6 linked regions of the Homo sapiens genome follow. The protein of the gene in region 3 purifies or fractionates together with the protein of the main gene of each other region. This does not show direct contact. Each region holds a gene or a part of one and is shown on either strand. Other genes may lie near its edges.

What was found.
Region 1: the proteins of YTHDC1 (region 3) and KRR1 purify together in Homo sapiens (co-immunoprecipitation; one large-scale study listed by IntAct). This does not show direct contact.
Region 2: the proteins of YTHDC1 (region 3) and THOC1 purify together in Homo sapiens (pull-down; one large-scale study listed by IntAct). This does not show direct contact.
Region 4: the proteins of YTHDC1 (region 3) and SRFBP1 purify together in Homo sapiens (co-immunoprecipitation; one large-scale study listed by IntAct). This does not show direct contact.
Region 5: the proteins of YTHDC1 (region 3) and IWS1 fractionate together in Homo sapiens (co-fractionation; one large-scale study listed by BioGRID). This does not show direct contact.
Region 6: the proteins of YTHDC1 (region 3) and ODF2 purify together in Homo sapiens (co-immunoprecipitation; one large-scale study listed by IntAct). This does not show direct contact.

The regions. Positions count from the first base shown.
Region 1 is NC_000012.12:75,494,610-75,498,109, forward strand, and holds part of KRR1 (KRR1 small subunit processome component homolog), read right to left. Parts: 3' UTR 1,054-3,500; coding exon of another isoform or gene 968-1,053; 3' UTR 1-967. Other genes in the region: GLIPR1 (glioma pathogenesis-related protein 1 precursor), read left to right, coding at 968-1,053. UniProt on the Homo sapiens protein: Part of the small subunit (SSU) processome, first precursor of the small eukaryotic ribosomal subunit.
Region 2 is NC_000018.10:216,048-219,547, forward strand, and holds part of THOC1 (THO complex subunit 1), read right to left. Parts: intron 2,923-3,500; coding exon 2,839-2,922; intron 587-2,838; coding exon 439-586; intron 1-438. UniProt on the Homo sapiens protein: Component of the THO subcomplex of the TREX complex which is thought to couple mRNA transcription, processing and nuclear export, and which specifically associates with spliced mRNA and not with unspliced pre-mRNA.
Region 3 is NC_000004.12:68,336,591-68,340,090, forward strand, and holds part of YTHDC1 (YTH domain-containing protein 1), read right to left. Parts: intron 1,795-3,500; coding exon 1,693-1,794; intron 1,311-1,692; coding exon 982-1,310; intron 861-981; coding exon 437-860; intron 1-436. UniProt on the Homo sapiens protein: Regulator of alternative splicing that specifically recognizes and binds N6-methyladenosine (m6A)-containing RNAs.
Region 4 is NC_000005.10:121,971,975-121,975,474, reverse strand, and holds part of SRFBP1 (serum response factor-binding protein 1), read right to left. Parts: intron 1,280-3,500; coding exon 1,191-1,279; intron 161-1,190; coding exon 88-160; intron 1-87. UniProt on the Homo sapiens protein: May be involved in regulating transcriptional activation of cardiac genes during the aging process. May play a role in biosynthesis and/or processing of SLC2A4 in adipose cells.
Region 5 is NC_000002.12:127,502,490-127,505,989, forward strand, and holds part of IWS1 (protein IWS1 homolog), read right to left. Parts: intron 3,264-3,500; coding exon 2,195-3,263; intron 1,088-2,194; coding exon 898-1,087; intron 384-897; coding exon 326-383; intron 1-325.
Region 6 is NC_000009.12:128,480,006-128,483,505, reverse strand, and holds part of ODF2 (outer dense fiber protein 2), read right to left. Parts: intron 3,294-3,500; exon of another isoform or gene 2,690-3,293; intron 1,927-2,689; coding exon 1,855-1,926; intron 691-1,854; coding exon 619-690; intron 1-618. UniProt on the Homo sapiens protein: Seems to be a major component of sperm tail outer dense fibers (ODF).

The sequences.
Region 1 (3,500 bases), on a different chromosome or scaffold from region 3:
AACAAACTATGTTGAGAAAGAGCCCATAGGCCTCACCAGACTGCCAAAGGGTACGATTACACAAAAAAGTTTAGAACTTTTTCCAAAAGCAGAGTTCCAAAAAAAATTAGTGCAATGGCAGGTTCATTGAGATAAATGTGCCCCCTCTCCCCATTACTACTATGAGGATATTTATGGGGATATAAAATGCTTGGATATTATTTCACTTTCTAGTCTGTGACCTTGGTCAATTACTTATACTCTGTGACTCAGCCTCTAGCTATATAATGGGTATAAATAGACAACAGTAACTTCCTCATAGGGTTTTTGTGAAGATTATTTCATTCAAGGTTGTTTAGAACAAAGACAAGCACATGGTAGTGCTCACTAATTAGCAGCTATTATTCATATCACATCTTGTATGTGAAAACAATTTGTACTTTAGAAATTCCCCCATACCATTATTTATTATTTTTTTGGAAGGCACCAGCCAAATGGCTCCTATCCAGTGAAAATTATGGAGGGCTGACCAACTGAGAATATTGAATGTGGGTCACCATAGCTTTTCTAAGATGGACAGTTTTTTAAATGGCAGTAATCATATAGGCCAGAGGGTAGGTAAAGAGAGGGAGCACAGCCCTGGAGTTAAATCCAGGTTTCCTCTGACTCTGAAGTGTATAAATTGTGATTAAAGGTATCTCTTACATCTTTTGTCTCATCTGTAAAACAAGAATAACTTCCTCTCAGAGCTGTCACAATTAAATGGGATGCAGATTAAAACAGGTGCATAGACACAGGTACATAGAATGAACTATGCAAATATTAGCAGCCTTCCATTTCTGCCTTCCTGTCTTCACTTCTATTACCAACTCTCTGGACCTTTGTACTTCACTCCACTATTCTTCTGGATTTAGTTAAGGATTCATAGTAAATTGCAATTTTAAAAAACCGAAAAACTTCTAATGGACATCCTTCTTCTGCTTTACAGAGGGAATTACCCAACTTGGCCATATAAGAGAGGAGCCACCTGCAGTGCCTGCCCCAATAATGACAAGTGTTTGGACAATCTCTGTGGTGAGTAAAAGGAACAATACACCAATAGAATAACATAATAGTAACATGTAACTTTCTACAGAATTAACAATGAAACCATGTTTTATCTTAACGGCTATCTTCAAGGAAACTGGCATCAAGTAGCAATTAAACCAATGGCTTACTGTTCTAGGAATACATTTAAGAGAAATTTAAATGTGAAAATCACGTTCTTTTTATTTAGTTCTAATTGGTCAAACAACAACAACAAAAAAAACTGTCAGAAACTGTAGACTAAGATTCCTAAGATTTGCTTATTTCAGCAAGATCAAAAATAAGTATAACAGGTCATCCAAACAAACAGAATTCTGTTTTCGTTTTTTTTTTTGTTTTTTTTTTTTGAGACAGAGTCTTGCTCTGTCACCCATGCTAGAGTGCAGTGGTGTGATCTCAGCTCACTGCAACCTCCATCTCACGGGTTCAGGCGATCCTCCTGCCTCAGCCTCCCAAGTAGCTGAGATTACCATGCCACCATGCCCAGCCTGGCCAACATGGCAAAAACCCCCTCTACTAAAAATACAAAAACTAGCTGGGTGTGGTGGTGGACGCCCGTAACCCCAGCTACTCAGGAGGCTGAGGCAGGACAATCACTTGAGCCCAGGAGGTGGAGGTTGCAGTGAGCAGAGATTGTACCACTGCACTCCAGCCTGGGTGACACAGTGAGGGTCTATCTCCAAAAAATGAAAATAAAATAAAGCTGCAACATGGCACTTTTTATTAGCCAGACAGCATTTAATGAAGAAGTGTAGAAGCTGCAAGCAGTTAAATTTCCAAGGATGTTTTACTAAACATCCAAGCAAAATTCTGCTTTGTGATTTTGAAATATTAGTAAGTGACCAAGAGTTTATTTCTTGTTCTTGTTCTAGACACAAACCCTTCCATCCCAGTATGTTTTTTTACCATGGTGTGAAGGGGAAACTTCAATTAAGCTGTGCAAAGCCTGTGGTACTTTCGTGTCCATATTTGTAACAAACTGAACTCAGAGCAGCCGGGCTAGAGTAGGGTGCTTAGAATAGAGGAAGGACAGAGTCGGCCAAGTTCCACTGCACGAAATTTAGTTTGGAAAAAAGTGTTCCATTGCTCATGTTTTATAAGGTCCCTTGCAGGCCTAAAATTATAAAATTCTATATATTAAACTGCTTGCTCTCCTCCTTCCCATTTAATGTTGAATACTTATCTTTACATACAGTCGTACTTTTGCAAAGTTTTCTGAGCCATTTTTCTCCCAGTCCAATCATTCTTTATTTCACTTATATCACTCTTGTGAAGAAAAGTAACATGTAGCCACAATGCAGATAATATCAAGGTATCAATGTATTCACTGAATTCTTCCTTTCACTCACTCTTCACTTCAGAACGTATATATTTCTTCCTTCCAAATTAACCAGTATACATAAGGGCTAAAACTATGGATTTCAGAACCAGTATGCCAAGTTTTGGTGCAATTTCCAGTTTGACCACTGTGACTTTGGGCAAGTTTCTGCTTCTATTTTTTTCAACGAAACAACCCAGTGAAAAAAATGTTTCCCTTTAAAAATCTAGGCAATTAGTAACACTACCACCACCACAATGACAAAAATACTTCTGGTTTTAGCTTTTGATCTTTGGTGATCTAACTTGAGATGCTCTTTAATCTTGGGGAATAACATTTAGAAGATTAAAGCTGTAGTCCAATAATGAAAACCCTTGGACTCTTGAGAAAACACATGCTAACTTGTATTTATAAGATGTGAAACTCATTACCCATTTACTTCAGATAAGTGCTCAACATCTTACAGATTGATCTTGTCACTAATTTCCTATTCTCAGAGCTAGATTTATGTAATTTGTTTTCATGTAAGTTTAGGCTTACTTGAAAGTATTCTACTCTTCGCACTAATACTGAATAAGTAAGATTTGTGACTAAAAAACTTAAGAATCACCATTTGACCTTTTATAAGGTCTGATGAAGGTAAAGGTTAGAGGATAAAAGCTTTTATTTAACAGATTCCTTCTCAGACAAATTATGGCAAGCACTGGAGCATAAATTCCTTCGTGGTATTCCTTCGTGGTCTCCTAGATACTGCTGGTAGTTCAATAAATACCCTTGGAGGCCAAATCAGGACTGTTTTACAAAATGTGCTGGGCATATTAGTGGTACATAAGATGATTTTAGCTAGTTCACAGATGTACATTTGTTTCAATAGTTGAATATTGAACATTTAAAAATATATATAAAAAAAAATAACTAGAACATCACACTCTTGATTTCATCGACATAACTGCCAAGAAAAGTGAGGGTAGCATATTTACAGTAATTCACCACAAAGCCCACTCACAGGTATGAAGACCAGGGATGCTCACCAGTACCCAGAGGACCAGATGATTGATGGGTTCTACCACGAGCATCTAATAGCGACTGCTGCAGAACTGGTGTGGAAAAGGTTTCT
Region 2 (3,500 bases), on a different chromosome or scaffold from region 3:
GGTTCAAGCAATTCCCTTGCCTCAGCCTCTTGAGTAGCTGGGACTACAGGCACGTGCCACCACACCTGGCTAATTTTTTATATTTTAGTAGAGACGGGGTTTCACCATATTGGCCAGGATGGTCTCAATCTCTTGACCTCATGATCCACCCGCCTCGGCCTCCCAAAGTGCTGGGATTACAGTCGTGAGCCACCGCACCCACAGCCCTGTTGAACTTTAAATTACATGCTGTACAGAAAATTATCAGTTACTTCTTTATCAACTCATGTATTTCCTGTAAATGTATATTCCAATGTGTTTTTCCCTCATTCTAAAACATGGGAGCTTGTGGATCACTGGTTTTTCACATGATTAAGTCAGTTTTTTGCTCACATAGTGACAGCAATTTTAAAGAAGATGTCAACTAAAGGGTATGAAAAGTTGATCTATGGTACTTACCGGTAATTCCTTGGCTAGCTTTATTACCATATTTTCAAGATATTCTGGTAAACTTTTAAACTGCTGGTTGGTTGGCTGGAAGAAGTGAGGGCTTCTCCGTGCTAATAGTCTCAGGGCTCTCCAACCATAATTTGAATTGTTCACAGCCCTATAAAAAGAGGTGTCAGGCTTGTAATTTATAGCTTTGTATTTCTGTATTCCCTTCTGCTCAGTTCTGCCATGTGTAATTCTGTATTTAAGGTAAATAGCTCAAAGTGCCATTCTTTGTATTTGAATCTTATTCCTAAAGAACTTTTCAGTATGTAGTCCACTGATAATAACAAACCAATAGATGCACATGTAACTAATCACAGGAACCAACAATGCCTGAAGAGGCAGGCTCATATGCAGCAAACACATTTTCAAAGTTTCCGTTCATTTTGTTTAATTTTAACAAGTCAACAAGTGTGTGCAGTACTGGCTGGATGCAGTACGTATACAACAGGAATCATCCATCTAGCTATTTGGAATCCATGAACTGTTCCCTAATGAAGTATAACAATGATCAGGGTGGTATACCATCAGGTGAGAAACAAACTGCAGAGAAATTCTAAAGATAATGCGTCAGAAATATGCAATGCTGCGGAAGAAACCAAACCACAAATTTATTCCATTTAAGAGTTTTGGATTGGAAGTCTCTTCCTCCCCTAAGAATAGCAATTTGGTTTATTTGGTCACCTCTTATAAATAAGCATATGTTACCTTTAGGATGTGCAGGTACCACTGAAGACTTAACAAAAACTACCCATAGACACTGGGGACTCTTCCCAAGTTAACACCTGCTGTGAGGCTTTGCCTAAACAGTTAAGAGCCTTCCTCTCTGACATATCTGTTTAGACAATTTGATTATTTTAGGCATTTTCAAAATTCACTGTCAATTATACACATCATTTTTCTTATTCTCCACAAAACCCTCTTTGGAGATAATAATTTGAACTATCACTTTAGGAATGAGTCCACCTAGTCTTATGTAACAGTGATAAATTAATATTCTTTCAATCGACAAACACTTTTGAGCCAGGCACTCAGTAGCTGTGGAGAGTACCTGAGGCACAGTAAGGCAGGCATTGCTAGTGATAAACACACAAGGTATAAGACAATTTCATAAGGATGAGGAAAACTTGAGAAATGAGAAAGTGGTAAGTGCCACCTTCTCATTTGGATAGTGGTAAGTGCCGTGAAATAAAAACCACGAGAATGCAAAAGAGGAGACCAGGGAGGGGAAGAGCTTCCCAGCCAGGGGGACTTTAAGCCACGGCAACCTTGGGGAAAAAGTGGTTCAAGCAAGTGAGACAGTAAAGTGTGAAGGTCCTGACAGGAAAGGGAAAGACAGGACCAAGAGGCCTGCTGTGGTTAAAGCAGAGGGGAGGCATGGCCACACAGGAGAGTATGAGCCAGACCAAGGAGGTCTTTTAGGCCCTGGGAAGGAGTTTGGAATAGGCACTCACTGGGAGATTTTAAGCAGATTAGACTTGGACAATTATTTTAAAGATCACTGGCTGATGCATGGAGCACTGACCACAACTAGAGAGATTAGTTAAGAGGTCACAGTAATTAACAACTCTGGTCACAGGGTCACACTAGTCACAAATACTGAGTGCTAACCACATGCCCTGTAGGGTTCAAAGTGCACTGTCTTATTTAATCCTCAGAATAACCCTGTGAAATGGGTACTGTTACTATTTAACAGATGAGGAAAGGGAACTGGCGGTTTAATAATTAAATTAGCCTTAGTTGCCTAGTAAGTAAGTGGTAGAGGGAATCGAACCTATGCATTCTGACCAGAGGCCTCTTGCCTTTAAACCACTACTCTTCAATTCCTATTTAAAGCCATGAGACTGCGGTGTCACCCAGAAGGTTCTAGATAAAGAGGCTAAGACCAATTCCTGATGTTACTCCAAAATTTGAGTTAGGCAGAGGATGAGGAGGCTGAAATGGAATGTGAGGTGGAGTGGGCAACGAGGGCAAAGGGCAAACAGAAGAACCATGGATTTGGATTCTCATGGACGCCAAGAGAAGAAAACATTAAGGGGAACAGGATAGGTTAACAGCTGCTGTGAGATACTGTGCTTTGAAGGGTAGAGAGAACAGAACTAATAGTTGGAGAGAAATGGGGATCAGGGGGAGTTTTTTTTTTCTTATATTTTGAAACAAGGGTGATTCCAAGTCATGCTTAGTTAACAGGAATAATCCTTGAAATCAGGATGTGTACTAACAAGAACTTGGAACATAAACTCACCTAAGAGAAAAAGCACTATTCTATCTACTGCCTCTCTTAAGAGGCTTTCTAGTATACACACAATTCCTAAGGAAGAAACAAATTGAAGAAAATTAAAAGGAGCTAATGAGGAGCATACTTACTTATATTCATTTTCCACCATATTTTCAGGGTCTGCCTGTTCAATGGCTTCTTCAAAGAATTCCTCCAAAGTGGGCATGTGTTCCCTGAGCGGTACAAAAATAACCAGTGAGGATGGCATATATTCTTAATAATAAATACTCATGAAGTGGTGGCAGGACAAGATTGTGGGCATGTGTTCCCTGAGCAGTACAAAAATAACCAGTGAGGATGGCATATACTCTTAATAATAAATACTCATAAAGTGGTGGCAGGACAAGATTGTGGGCATGTGTTCCCTGAGCGGTACAAAATAACCAGTGAGGATGGCATATACTCTTAATAATAAATACTCATAAAGTGGTGGCAGGACAAGATTGTGGGCATGTGTTCCCTGAGCGGTACAAAATAACCAGTGAGGATGGCATATACTCTTAATAATAAATACTCATAAAGTGGTGGCAGGACAAGATTGTGGGCATGTGTTCCCTGAGCGGTACAAAATAACCAGTGAGGATGGCATATACTCTTAATAATAAATACTCATAAAGTGGTGGCAGGACAAGATTGTGGGCATGTGTTCCCTGAGCGGTACAAAATAACCAGTGAGGATGGCATATACTCTTAATAATAAATACTCATAAAGTGGTGGCAGGACAAGATTCTAATGGCCCCATACTTTTAG
Region 3 (3,500 bases):
GAAATAATCTGTTTTGATTCTGAAGCCATATGATGGAAATCTAGGGGTATTTTACCAAGGAAATACTGTAATACCCAGTGGACAGGTTTCCTATGAATATACTTCAAGTACATCAGTGTTTAAATAAACTGCTGACTGGTATGAAAATCTAAGAATTTACAGAAATCTGAAATACATTTCCTTATACAGAATCAAATGGACTTGTGTTCATTTACAACACAACCATTCTGTAGCTAGGAAATGCCTTTCCTAAAATATGTAAATCTTATCCAAGATTATTCAAATGTATTTATAACATTCAAAAGCATATAAAGGATCACAAGACAATCCTATTAATATCCCCCATCTCCTCAACAATTTTATAATTTAAACATTTTCAAGACTGAAACCTATCAAGCTTTTTTTAAGACAAACTTTTACATATAAAAAGTAGTACCTGATCCATCTGTGCCTGAACCAGATCTGACAGACCCATCTGTGAAGGAAACAGATTCAGAACCAGAGTCACTGGCCTCACTTCGAGTGTCATAATCATTTCCCTCCTCTTTCTGGTCTCTCTCATCCTGTTCATATTCTTCTTCTTCCTCCTCCTCCTCCTCCTCTTCCTCCTCCTCCTCTTCCTCCTCCTCCTCTCCATCTTCATCCACCTCTTCATCTTCTTCTGCATCTTCTTCTACTTCTTCATCTTCCTCCACATCTTCTTCCACTCCTTCCTCCTCATTCTCAGTGTTGTTCCCTTGCTCATCAGAAGAACCACTGCTGCCAGTCTCATGGTCAGAGCCATATTCTTCAGAGTTCACTTCTTCCTTAGAAGACTGGCTGGATCTGCTTGCACGTCTATCCACTTCAAGCCCAATTCTCTGATGTTTAAAGAAAAAGGGAATCAGCAGTCATATAAAAGACAAGGTCAGGGTGAATAAACAGTTCTAAAGCCTCAAAAAGAATGGCTTTCTGTTTTATATCTGCAATAATATTTACTACCTCAGAACCATCTGGCGTAGGAGATTTGGCCCTCCTTTCAGGATCCCTTTTCCGGACACAGGTTTTTTCAGGTTGATTCTTATAAGGTTCTCTGGAGGCACTACTTGATAGACGAATTTTCCGATCAGCATCTAGACGCTTGTTTCTTTCAGATCTTTGATATTCCTCATTTTTATACTCTGTGGCTGACTTTCCTTTTGTACTAACTATTCTTTTGTTATTGCTAACAGATGAGCTCAGTGGCTTAGAAACCAGTTGTCTAGAATGGACAGAAGGCTTTTGTCGTTTGGTATCAGTAGATTCCATTCGATCACTTTTTCTTTTTGATCCTTTAAAATACAATGTAAAAAAAAAAAAAAGAAGTATTTGTAGTATTCCATTTATTTCACCAAAGACTGACAATAATATATACATCAGGAAGGGGGGATAGGCCTCATTTCTTTAAAAGTCTTCTGAGAGATTTCTTCTCCAGAGTTAATCTAAAAGAAAACATAGCTTTCAACTATGGGAATAAAACCATATATTTGAGAAGTTTCATATATTAGAAAAAAACAGATTATCCCTATTCATATGGATACCAGTTTATTATGTACATTTAGTGTTAACTGCCTCAAGGAACAAGCACAAAAAAGCACAGTCATTTTTTTTAAGAAATTGAATCTCCTCTATTTATACTGTTATTTCAACAAAAATAATAGAACTCTTACATACCCTTTTTCTCATTTTTATCTTGTTCACTCTCTGGATTATACAGTTCATCATCTTGTTCTGGTACTTCAGTTAAAATATCATCCAGAACATTAAGTTCTCCATCTGCAAATAAAATTAAAAATTAATAGGGAAAAATCACTATCATTGAACATGTATTTTTGAGTACTTACTAAGTGTGAGGCCACAAGCGCCTAGGAGCTTTTACTTTTATATAAAAAGCTTTACTTTTATTTCAGAATCAAGACACAAGATTAATTTCTATAAAACTAATACAGGGTAAAGAATTGGCCAGTCGTGGTGGCTCATGCCTGCAATCCCAGCACTTTGGGAGGCTGAGGCAGGCCAATCACGTGACGCCAGGAGTTTGAGACCAGCCTGGCCAACATGGCAAAACCCTGCTCTGCTAAAAATACAAAAATTAGCAGGGCATGGTGGCACATGCCTTTAACCCCAGCTACTCAGAAGGCTCAGGGACAAGAATCACTTGAACCTGGGAAGCAGAGGTTGCAGTAAGCCAAGATTGTGCCACTGCATTCCAGCCTGGGCGATAAGAGTGAGTTTCTCAAAATACACACACACACACAAACAGAAGTCTGGGCTATCTGGTCTACAAAGCCAGGAGTATACATCTCAGAAGGCATGAAAAGATATACTGAGGCATAAAAAGAAAATGCAAGAATGTCTCTATTTTTACCTCATTCTTTAATTTCTAATATTTCTGAGGGCTTTAAAATGTGTACAATAAATTAGTATACAAATACGTATGTACAACTTATAAATACACATTTACCAAAAATGTGCACTCTCCACAATTACAAAGGGAAAACGACTTTACAGTGGAGAAATGTTTCACAGGCCAAATTAACCAGATAATCAAAGTTAACATCACCAGTAATGAGACAAATCAACATCATGGACCTCCTGTAACAATGCTCTGAGAATAGAACAATGCTTTTGTAATGTTCTATGCAAAATGGAAAAGCTGAACCTACATGAGGAAAAAAATCAGACAAACCCAAATTAAAGGGCATCCAAATATGTCACTGTCATGAAACAAAGAGTAAGAACTATTTCATATCAAAGCAGACCTAGAGAGGCATGATAACTGAACACAGCCCACAATATTGGACATAATTGGAAAAACTGGTGAAATCTGAATAAAGTTTGTAAATCAGAGTAAGTAGCAATGTTATTTTTCTAATTTTGACTGTACTATGGTTAAGTCAAAGTCCTTATAACACATATTTAAGTATTTAGGGACAAAGATATATTATGTCTACAACTTACAAATGGTTCAGGAAAAAAGTGTGCACACATGCACGTACACACACAGACACACAGAATGAGACAAATGTGACAAAATGCTAACATCTGCAGAATGTGTTTGGAGAGTAAAAGAAAATTCTTCACACTGCACTTGTAGCTATTATGCTTATCTGAAATTATGTCAAACTGCAAGTTAAATGAAAAAATTATCAATGTGCTATATAATAAAAAAAACATTTAGAGCCTGCTGGTGTGGACTGTAAAAGCACAAAACTTGTTCAGAGAAGGGAACTATGACTTTATTCAATGATCATGAAAGCATAAAACTCAGTTTTGTCCCCACTTCTACCTTGTCCAACAAGATAAACCTTAGAAATACACACAAATACCATTTTAAATTTTAAAATGTACTAATGCTAATAGTAAATGTTTAAACATTAACTATTCCAATATCAAAAACATCTTTCCAAATTTAAGGTGTGCCAAAGAGGAAGTATAAAGCCATGAAAACTGATGAGACAGAACAATTACATTTGTGGCTT
Region 4 (3,500 bases), on a different chromosome or scaffold from region 3:
CAAATAAGCAATACCACACACAAACAAAATGCAGGATAACAGGATACTCAGAAACATACACACATACACACCCACACAAGTCCTTACCTTCATGGCATGGATTTCTTCAAGCAATCTTTGCGCCCGTCTTTGGTTTTTTAACAGTGCATCTTCAGTACCCCTGCAAAAAATACATTACGATATGTAGCCAGGCAAAGCATTAATTTTAGACTTATAGTGTAATGGATAATCACTTCATTTCTTTTTAGAAAAGCGTAATAAATCTCTAAATAACAAACACGCCACTATCCTACACTGTCCATTTCCCCCACTCCCAAAACACACCTCAATTTACTAACCAAACCCATATGTTGGAAAATGGCAAAAATAAGTACTGTCTTGCCATTGTATTAATGACTATTACTTTTGATAGTTTGCCTTCTCTAGTTCCTTAATAACACTTTTTTAAATCAATCAATCGTACATTGTATTTAATGTAATATAAATGTCATAATTTACAATTAGAGTTTGACTATAATTTTATCAAATGAAAATTTGCTCTCTGGCATTTAAGGAAAAAATAAAGAAGGGCTATATTCTGACATATTTATGAAAGAATAGGAAATTAATCAGGAACAAAACATACTTGAAGACTAAGTATTCATGCTTACATCATAAAAAGAACTATAAATAAAATACTTTTTCACTAACACTAGTGATACTGAAAATACAAAATATTGTATTTTTCCAAAAAATTACATGGAACACAATGTTCTAATAAACACTTTCATAAGGTACTGAAGATTTCAAATTACTTAGCAATTCAAGAAAAAATGTGATATAAAATCTTCAAAACTGATTCTTAAGGTATTACTAGATTTGTTAAGCTGTATCAGTATCTTAAAATAACTTCTGATAACACAAAACACACAAGCCCAAGGGAATTTCATTCTAAAAAGACCAAAAGAGAGTTTTGCAAAAGCAGCAAAAAAATTCATCCTGTATCTTGAGCAATGATGGTCCAAACCATAGAAGGGCATGCTGACACAGCACATTCTATCTCACTCACATCATCTCCGCATACAAAACAAAAATGGTGTATAAGACATTTAATTACTTCTCTATATCCCACCCTAAACATTTTAAAGTATCAAATAAAAACAACTTTTGACATTTTATTAGTCACAAGATCATTACTTTAAATGACTAACTTTTTTGACTTCAGTCGGCCAACACTCCTGACAAGTTTTCGGATAACTAAAACTCGAATTCTCTTCACTTCTTTTCTCATCTTCACAACCTTTGAAGAATAAAGCAATAATTAGAAGAAAGGCACTTACTTCAGGAACAAACACACTTTATTTTGAGTCTTAATATTTGAGACTTAGTCTACCACTTTAACTACTTTTATTGTCTAACTATATTCGTAGCTTGATGAAATCAAACCTCTTCCATAAATAGTGAAGGAATAAATCAACAGTCTAAAAATGTGTCTGAGAGCTTAAGAAAAACAAGTTATAATTTTTTAAAAAGTCACAGTATTACCCGAGATAAGTATTTTAATGTTACACTTATATCTTGCTGGGCTTGGAATATAATAAACAGTGAGTTCCCTGAAATCACAGCCTGTCATATTCATCTTTGTATTCCCACCGTTAAAACAAAGCCTCACTCATAATGGTAGGAATTTAATTTGTTGAATGACTATTTTAATTAGCAAATTAGCTTTTAATTAGCAATTTATTTTACATATTTATAAAACAAATCTTTCATTATTTTTAGTAACAAATTATTTCAAGTATAATTTTAAAAGAAGATCCACAAACACAAGGGCATTGTGTGCAAGCATATGTGCATGTAAACATACATGCCCCCCCCCCACACACACATGCACACACATACAAATACATAATTTAAATCACCCTACTGGAGAACAATGTTTAACTCTAAGAACAAAAAGCAGAGCTATAGGCCAAAAAATGGAAATTATAGTTATAAAAAAAATACACATTATAACAGCTTTCAGTGCAATGGCATGTAATTACGGAGTTTATATTTCATCTATCAGTTACGAGGCATACATCTTAAAAATTACTCCTGGAATGTCCTTCTTCCCCTTCTTCACTTTAGGAACTATATAAAATTCAGGTTCAGATATAGTCATTCCAGTGATACCTTCAATGACTTCTTCAGTTAAGGATAACCACTCCATCCCTGGGGTCCCCACTATACAGATTCTGTCATTAAAGCATCTACCTCACTGCACTGTTACTAATGGCTCATGTGGCTGTCTTTTTCTATAGACAGCAAGCTCCTAGAAAACAGGAGTCTTGTAATATTTATATAGTGTTTTCTTTGCCCTGCAAGAGTGCCTGGCACAAAAAATTCCTCAAATTCTTCTTGCCAAAATAACATTATCAACATCATCCTGTTTCTTTAAGGCTCTTCCATTTAATTAATATCTTCTCTTACCCTTCATGTCATTCACTCCCTTATTCACTGAAGATATTAGCAACCAACTTACAATTTCTTTACACCCTAAGTTCTGCCATCATTCTGTGTAACTTGCATGTCCACTTGAATAGCCCATCTGATAATTATATCTTCACTTCTTTACTTATTTTCTAAAGACCTAATCTATTCTATCTCAGCCATCCACTTCCATGGCCACACTGTCAACCTTGTCATCACTCATAATATTCAATTTCTAAAACCATTAATTCAAATATTCCACACTGTGATCACAACCTCTATCAGCTTGCTTGTTCAACTCCACCCACCACAACCATCTTTGACTTCATTAGGACCACCAATCCACTGACTCCTACACTTAATGTTCCTCTTTTTATGCAGTTTAGATACATGATAACATCTGCCAATTTCTTAAACTCCTGCCCCTCTGGTGAGGAAACCGTAGTCCTGAATGAAAAAAACACTCTGAGTTCTTCATTGTCATATGCCAACAGCAAATACTTGTAACATTCTGTCTACTATAAATTCATCATAATTAACCTCAAGTGGACCCCCATTCTTCCTAGCCATCCTGTATTTTTCTGTTCAGTTCACTCTACAATGCCTGTTTTAAGCTTTTGCCTACTCTCCTAAATCCTCTAGTCTCCGTCCTCCTTTCTCTCTTTCAATCGTGTGGAGAAAATAATTATCAGTTGGGAACCATCATTTTTCTACTACCATGAATGCAAATGTACTTCCATGACCCATCTTCCTTTACGAATAAAGTTACAATATAAGAAATACCACTACACATATCTGAGTTTATCTTTTAACTGTCTTTTAGAGCCCATTCTCTTCTGCCTTCCTAGAACCTCTACTATGGATTATCCCTTTACCATAGCATTGTCATTCTCTTCCTTTTAATGCATTTGTTTCCCACTGATTTTTAAACATGATTGAGTCATTTTCATTAGAGACTAAATAAACATCCTCATTACATGGTTCACTAGGACCACTCCCTCTTCAGTTGTGTGGAGAACTAAGCTTTTAGAAAGAGACGTCCAAACTCA
Region 5 (3,500 bases), on a different chromosome or scaffold from region 3:
GGGTTAGTCCAAATCACCTAGAATGCCACTGTGAAAATCGGAAGTTCCCTAATTATTGTGAATCTTGCCCTTTAGCATTATAAAGTGACTTTCTTTGTCTCAAAGTGTCCCTTCCCCCTTAATTCAATTTTGCCCATTAGCTTCCTTTTATGTCTTTGTATATACGCTTTCATTTTACTTCCTGAATCCCTCTTCTAGATTTTTATCTTGAATACATCATAATTGTTTATTCCTACTTATTAGAATCATCTATAATGGTATCACTGCCATAAAAACACCAAAAAAAAGCACAATCAAGGAGGAAATATTTCCATCTTATACTTACTGTAAATTCTTCTTCCTCTTCATCACCAGATTCTCCAAATATGTCTGCAATAAGATTTCTAGAAAGTAGACAAATGTAAAAACATTCATTTGCTTTATCCTCATTTGCATAGGAACCATTTTTTAAAAAATAGAATTTATGTACAGTAAAATGTGCAGATCTTCAGTGTTCAGTTCAATGAGTTTTAACAAATATATACACTCATGTAACCAGCACCCTATACACTCATGTAGCCTCCCCAGAAAGTCCTCTCATGGCCCCTTCTAGCTGGTCCCCAATATCAACATCCTAGAAACAACTGCCACCTTGACTTCCAACACCACAGATAAATTTTGCCTACTGAACTTCATGTAAATGGAATCATATATGTCCTCTTTGCTTTCTTTCACTTAACATGTTAATTCTGAGATGAATTCTGAGATTCACCCACATTGTAGTGTGTTCAGTTCAGGAACTAAAATACTAAATCCCCAAAGACATGCAATTAGGCAGGACATATTGTATTATAACACAGACCCCTCTCTACTGCCTAATTAAGAACCCCTGAAAACTCATGTTATACTGTCACTTACTCTTCTTCATTGCCTGACTCACTGTCACTCCCAAACAGATCCTTCTCTTCATTTTTCTTATCAGACAATTCTTTCCCAGCTTCTTCCTCACTGTCAGATGCTATGGTCTTCTCTCTTTTGCCTGACTTGTCTGATACAGCATCACTGTCAGAGTCATCTGCATCAGAGACAACACGACTCTTCTTTGCTGCTGTTGAAAAAGAAAATCATCATTAATTTTATTTTATCACAGCCATTGTATTACTAAGCATAACAGGTGCTTTAAGATGGCAGTATACAGCAAAAATAAATAAATAAATAAATAAATAAATAAATAAATAAAATAAAATCAGAGGGCCTCCTGACACATGGTTTAGAATTTTTAAAATAACTAAATGGCTCATTCAGAGTCATCTTACAAATTATCTGTTATTTTGCTTAAGAAAAACTGGCCAAAAGATGAAGAAAGATATCATCAATATAAAAGCAGCCACCTTTCCTTTTGGGAAATCGAGAAAATTAAAACTAGATTGATGGGCAAAACTGGCATCCTTTCTATGTTGCCTAGTAGTAACTGAACTAAAAAGGACTACATATTTCTTTCTAGGAATAGTCTCCATGTTCCTCTATCATTGCTGGTCAGTTTGAAATTTCTCATCTCCCTTAACAAATTGACAGCATGTCTGGTACCTTTTCCTTCTCCTATAAGAACTGTGAGGTTATAATGAAATATGTCTTTTCCAAAAAAGATAAGTTTCATAAAAAAGTAGACAAGTAATACTATCTGTGCAAATGGAGTCTTAGATAGCAGAGACTGAAACACTCTGGAGAGAGATGGTGTCTCTAAATAGAATCCTCTCAAAGCTTCCCTGTATCTGAATATTCAACAATGTTTAACAAATGAAGAGATGTACCTGTGGGAGCTGTTACTGTTTGGATGGGATCTAGTGAACTAAGTGTCAAAGAGACCCACAGCTAACAATTAATACAGTTAGGGGTTTTTATGTAAACGTATTTCTTTGAAACATTACCTCTTCCAGTTTTAAAAAAAAAAAACAGTATTTTATATTCCTATTGACATGTGGTTTATCACTTTGAGGCAGTCAGAGATTAATATGTGCTAATAGAACTCCAAGGAAACTTACTATTAAGCTTAGCTAATGATAACCAGGGGAAATGAGTGTCCTACTGATATTTTAGAATATTAAGCTGAATAACAGAACACAGATCTGACATACCAAGAGGATACAATGTTCCACAGTTACAAGCTTAGACAATGAATAAAGCCATTGATAAACAGCCCAAGGTAACTCCTTACATGCTTTCTCTTCATCTTCACTATCAGAAAGCACAGCAGCTTTTCTCTTCGCTACTTTCTCCTCCTCACCCTCTTTTTCATCTTCATCACTGTCCATTTTTTGCTTTTTGTGTTCTTCCTCCTCACTATCAGAACTGTGAAACTTTTTTCTGTCCATATGGCTGTCTGAATGGAAGGAGTCATTCTGCATTTCTGTATCCTCTCCCTTATTCTCCCTGTCGCTGTCATCATCTGACTCTGGCTTCTGTTTGTGTCTGGACGCATCCTCAGTTTCTGAGTCACTGGCAGGCCCCTTCTGAGGCCCCTCACTCTCAGAGTCACTGACTCGGGGTTTGGGTAGCTCCTCATTTTCCGAATCACTGGCCTGGTTCCTTGGGGGATCCTCACTTTCCGAATCACTGATTCGGGGTTTGGGAAGCTCTTCATTTTCTGAGTCACTGGCCTGGTGCCTCGGAGGGTCCTCACTTTCTGAGTCACTGATACGAGGTTTGGGAAGCTCCTCATTTTCAGAGTCACTGGCCTGGTGCCTTGGGGGTTCCTCACTTTCTGAATCACTGACCTGAGGTTTAGGAAGCTCCTCACTTTCAGAATCACTCATTCGAGGTTTGGGAGGCTCCTCATTTTCGGAGTCACTGGCTTGGTGCCTTGGGGGTTCCTCACTCTCAGAGTCACTGATTTGAGGTTTTAGAGCATCTTCTGTTTCAGAGTCACTAGCAGGACTCTTCTGGAGCTCCTCAATCTCAGAATCACTGGCGGGATGCTTCCCAACATCTTCGTTTTCTGAGTCACTTGCATGCCCATTAAGAAGTTCCTCATTTTCAGAGTCACTACCAGGTAATTTCCTGGTCTCTTCACTCTCAGAGTCGCTCCCATGCTGATTGACATCCTCATTTTCAGAATCGCTTGCAGGAGGCTCTGCACGTTCCTCAGATTCAGAGTCGCTGTCCTTTTGCCTGTGAAGCTCCTCACTTTCAGAGTCACTAGCATTAAGATTTAAGGGCTCATCGTTCTCAGAGTCTGTCACATGATGTCCTTTGGGGAGGCCATCTTCTCGATCACTAGTTTCATTCTGAAAAATAAAGTGAGAAAAAATTAGGAAAGTGCAAAAAAAAAAAAACCATTAATAATAAAACATTAAATTTTTTCTGTGATTTTTTTAAAATACAGGATTATGTGCACCTAAATGGAGAATTCTTGTCCTATACCCATATAGAAACACCCCCACAGAAAGCCAATCAGTGAAATGGTTTTATTTGGATCCCCAAATGGGGAAATATAACCAGCCTTCATCAAAACAGATTTGTAA
Region 6 (3,500 bases), on a different chromosome or scaffold from region 3:
GCTCAAGTGATCCTCCCATCTCAGCATCCAGAGTAGCTGGAACTACAGGTGCATGCCACCACACCTGGCTGATTTTTTAATTTTAATTTTAATTTTGTAGAGATGGGGTCTCCCTGTGTTGCCCAGGACAGTCTCAAACTCCTGGCCTCAATGAGTCCTCCTGCATTGGCCTCCCAAAGTGCTAGGGAGTGGCCTAGGCTGGTCTCGAAAAAGTGCCAGACATGAGCTACTGCACCCGGCCCAAAGACAGGATTTGAACCCAGCTCTCTGCATATCCATTATATTCTACTGGCTCATAAAAATGCACAACTGCGGCTGGGCGCAGTGGCTCATGCCTGTAATCCAGCACTTTGGGAGGCCGAGGCAGGCAGATCACGAGGTCAAGAGATCAAGACCATCCTGGCCAACATGGTGAAACCCCGTCTCTACTAAAAATACAAAAATTAGCTGGGCGTGGTGGCGCACGCCTGTAGTCCCAGCTACTCGGGAGGCTGAGGCAGGAGAATCACTCAAATCCGGGAGGCAGAGGTTGCAGCGAGCTGAGATCGCGCCATTGCACTCCAGCCTGGCGACAGAGCGAGACTCCGTCTAAAAAAAAAAAAAAAAAAAGCACACTACCTTCTCACATTGTATTTCCTGAAGGAGCTCTTCCACCTCCTTGTCCTTGTCTTGCAGCAGTAACAGCAGGCGCTGGGAGAGAACACAGGCTGTCAGGTGCCCCTGGGAAGGGCAAAGAGGCCCGGCCCAGGGAGGACAGAGATTTGTGAGTACCTGGCCACTGGGGCCCAAGGTCCTACATACATTGGCCCATGTCAGAGATTCTGGTAGGAAGCACCTAACATATGCATTAAAACATTTTTTTAAAACAATGAACATGTATTTATTTTGCAATTTAAGAACAGCAATGTTAACTGTAGAAAACATTGAGAACACACCAAAAAAATCCTCCAAAGAAACCCCGTAACCCCCCATGCAGAGATAACCAGTTAATGCACATTGAAACTCATATGCTCAGCACCGTTAAAAAAAAAAAGTCATATGCCTACTTCGTTCCATAGCCTAAAAGCTCATGTTTACCATAATGTGATTAAATCTTCTGTGTCTTTTGAAAGAGCTGCTTGACGGTTCAAGTTACTGATGTATATCATAACTTAACAAGGGTTCTTGAGCTGGGAATGCACATTTAGGCATTATCGCCGAGCTTGCTGCATCTCCACTCCTTCCTCAACTAAGCATCAGAGGCCACAGACCACACCTTGGGAAACTGGGCCTCCGTCTCCCTCCCCTCTCTTGGAGACTTACAAAAGCATTAATACAGCAGACACTCCAAAAAAGTCTTGAAAGAAGCTGTTGAACTTCATGTTCAGGCCAGCCTATGGTTTCCCAAATTTAACTGGCTATGGAACCTCCCCTTCGGTTTCTTGCACTCATTAACATCTTGAGGAACTTAGGGTTCCATGAACAGACTTTGGAACATGCTGCTTTGGGAGAGATTCCTAGAATTAGGATTACTGAGTCCAAAGGTGTGTACTTTTTGATGGCTTTGAATCCATAATACTAATTTGATGGAAATCCAGCTTTAACAGACACGGATGATTTACAAATCCAACATCATCATTACCCTCTCTATGTTGGTGTCCAGCTTTGTGGCTCAAGGTCTCAAGTAACTAACTAGACAAGCCTATCAGAACAAGCGTGACAGGAGGACATCAGCCCATTTTACAGATCGTGAAACTAAGACCTAGCGAAATGCTCCAGCCCTCCTGCCTTGATCCAAGCACCTCTACACTTTGTAGTGGAACGACGCTCTTGCCACCTGTACCCACTAGAGTAGACAAGGGCAGCCTTAGTTACCGCTTTCTCTGAGTCGGCCTCCGCCAGCCGTTTCAGCAGTGCTCCTTGTTGCTCCATTAGTCTTTCAGAATCCTTCAAAGAAAGGCAAAGGAAAAAGTCAAGTCATTAAGCAATAAACCCAGATGTCTACATTTTATTGATTCTTTACCTTTTCCAAAAATTGTATTTTTTTTTTTTTTTAGAGTCTTACTCTGTTGCCCAGGCTGGAGTGCAGTGGTGCAATCATGGCTCACTGCAGCCTGGTCCTTCTGGGCTCAAGCCATCCTCCCATCTCAGCCTCCAAAGTAGCTGGAACAACAAGCATGCACTACCATGCCCAACTTTTTAAACATTATTATTATTTGTAGAGTTGGAGGGTCTCCCTGTTTGCCCAGGCTGGTCTTGAACTCCTGGGTTCAAACAATCTGCCTGCTTTGGCCTCCCCAAGTGCTGGGATTACAGGTGTGAGCCACCACACCTGGCCCAAAAAACTGTAGTTCTAATTTGAAAAGTAATGTGAATATATTCTCACTATAAAATAGTGAATGCTAATAAAGCTACAGTTCCTCCTGTACCCACCTCCAAACCCTACCCTACTGCTATTAGTTTGAGGAGTATCCTTCCCATCCTTTTTCTCTACATCTACAGAGAAATACTGTATTTCTCTGTATTGAAAATACTGTACAGAATACTGTATTGAAATACTGTTTCTCTGTAATGAAACAGCATTTTGCTGCATCAAGAGAAATACTGTTTGTCTCTGGGGGAAGGGGAAAGGGATTCATGTGTAACTTTAGGAAAATAATATCATATTGTATTTATGTGTTAATTTTTTTTAATTTTTTTTATTTTTTAGAGAGGAAGTCTCGCTCTTGTCCCCCAGGCTGGAGTGCGATGGCACGATCTCGGCTCACTGCAACCTCTGCCTCCCAGGTTCAAGCGATTCTCCTGCCTCAGCCTCCCGAGTAGCTGGGATTACAGATAACTGCCACCACGCCCGGCTAATTTTTGTATTTTTAGCAGAGACAGGGTTTCACCATGTTAGCCAGGCTGGTCTCAAACTCCTGACCTCAGGTGATCTGCCCGCCTTGGCCTCCCAAAGTGCTGGGATTACAGGCGTGAGCCACCATGCCCAGCTGTTACTTGATTTTTAAAAACAGCTTTATTGAGATATAAATTTGAACACCATTTAAAGTGTACAGCATGGTGACTATAATTAATGATGTATTATATACTTGAAATCTGCTAGGAGATCTTAAGTGTTGTCACCACACACACACAAAAAGGTAACCATGTGACGTGATGGATGTGTTAATCAGCTTGATTGAGGTGGTCACTTTACAATGTATATGGGTATCAAATCATCACGATGAACATCTTAAAATGTATACTACTTCTGTTTGTCAAATATACCTCAATAAAGCTAGAAGAAAAAATAAAGTATACAATTAAATGGCTTTGGTATATTCCATTATTAACTTTTAAAAATTGTGGTAAAATATATGTAACATAAAACTTGTCATTTTAACCTTTTTATTTCTTTTAGAGACACAGTCTAGCTCTGTCACCCAAGCTGGAGTGCATGTTGTAATCATGGATCATAGCTCACTGCAACCTTGATATCCTGGACTCAAGTGATCCTCCCACCTCAGCCTCCTCAGTAGCTG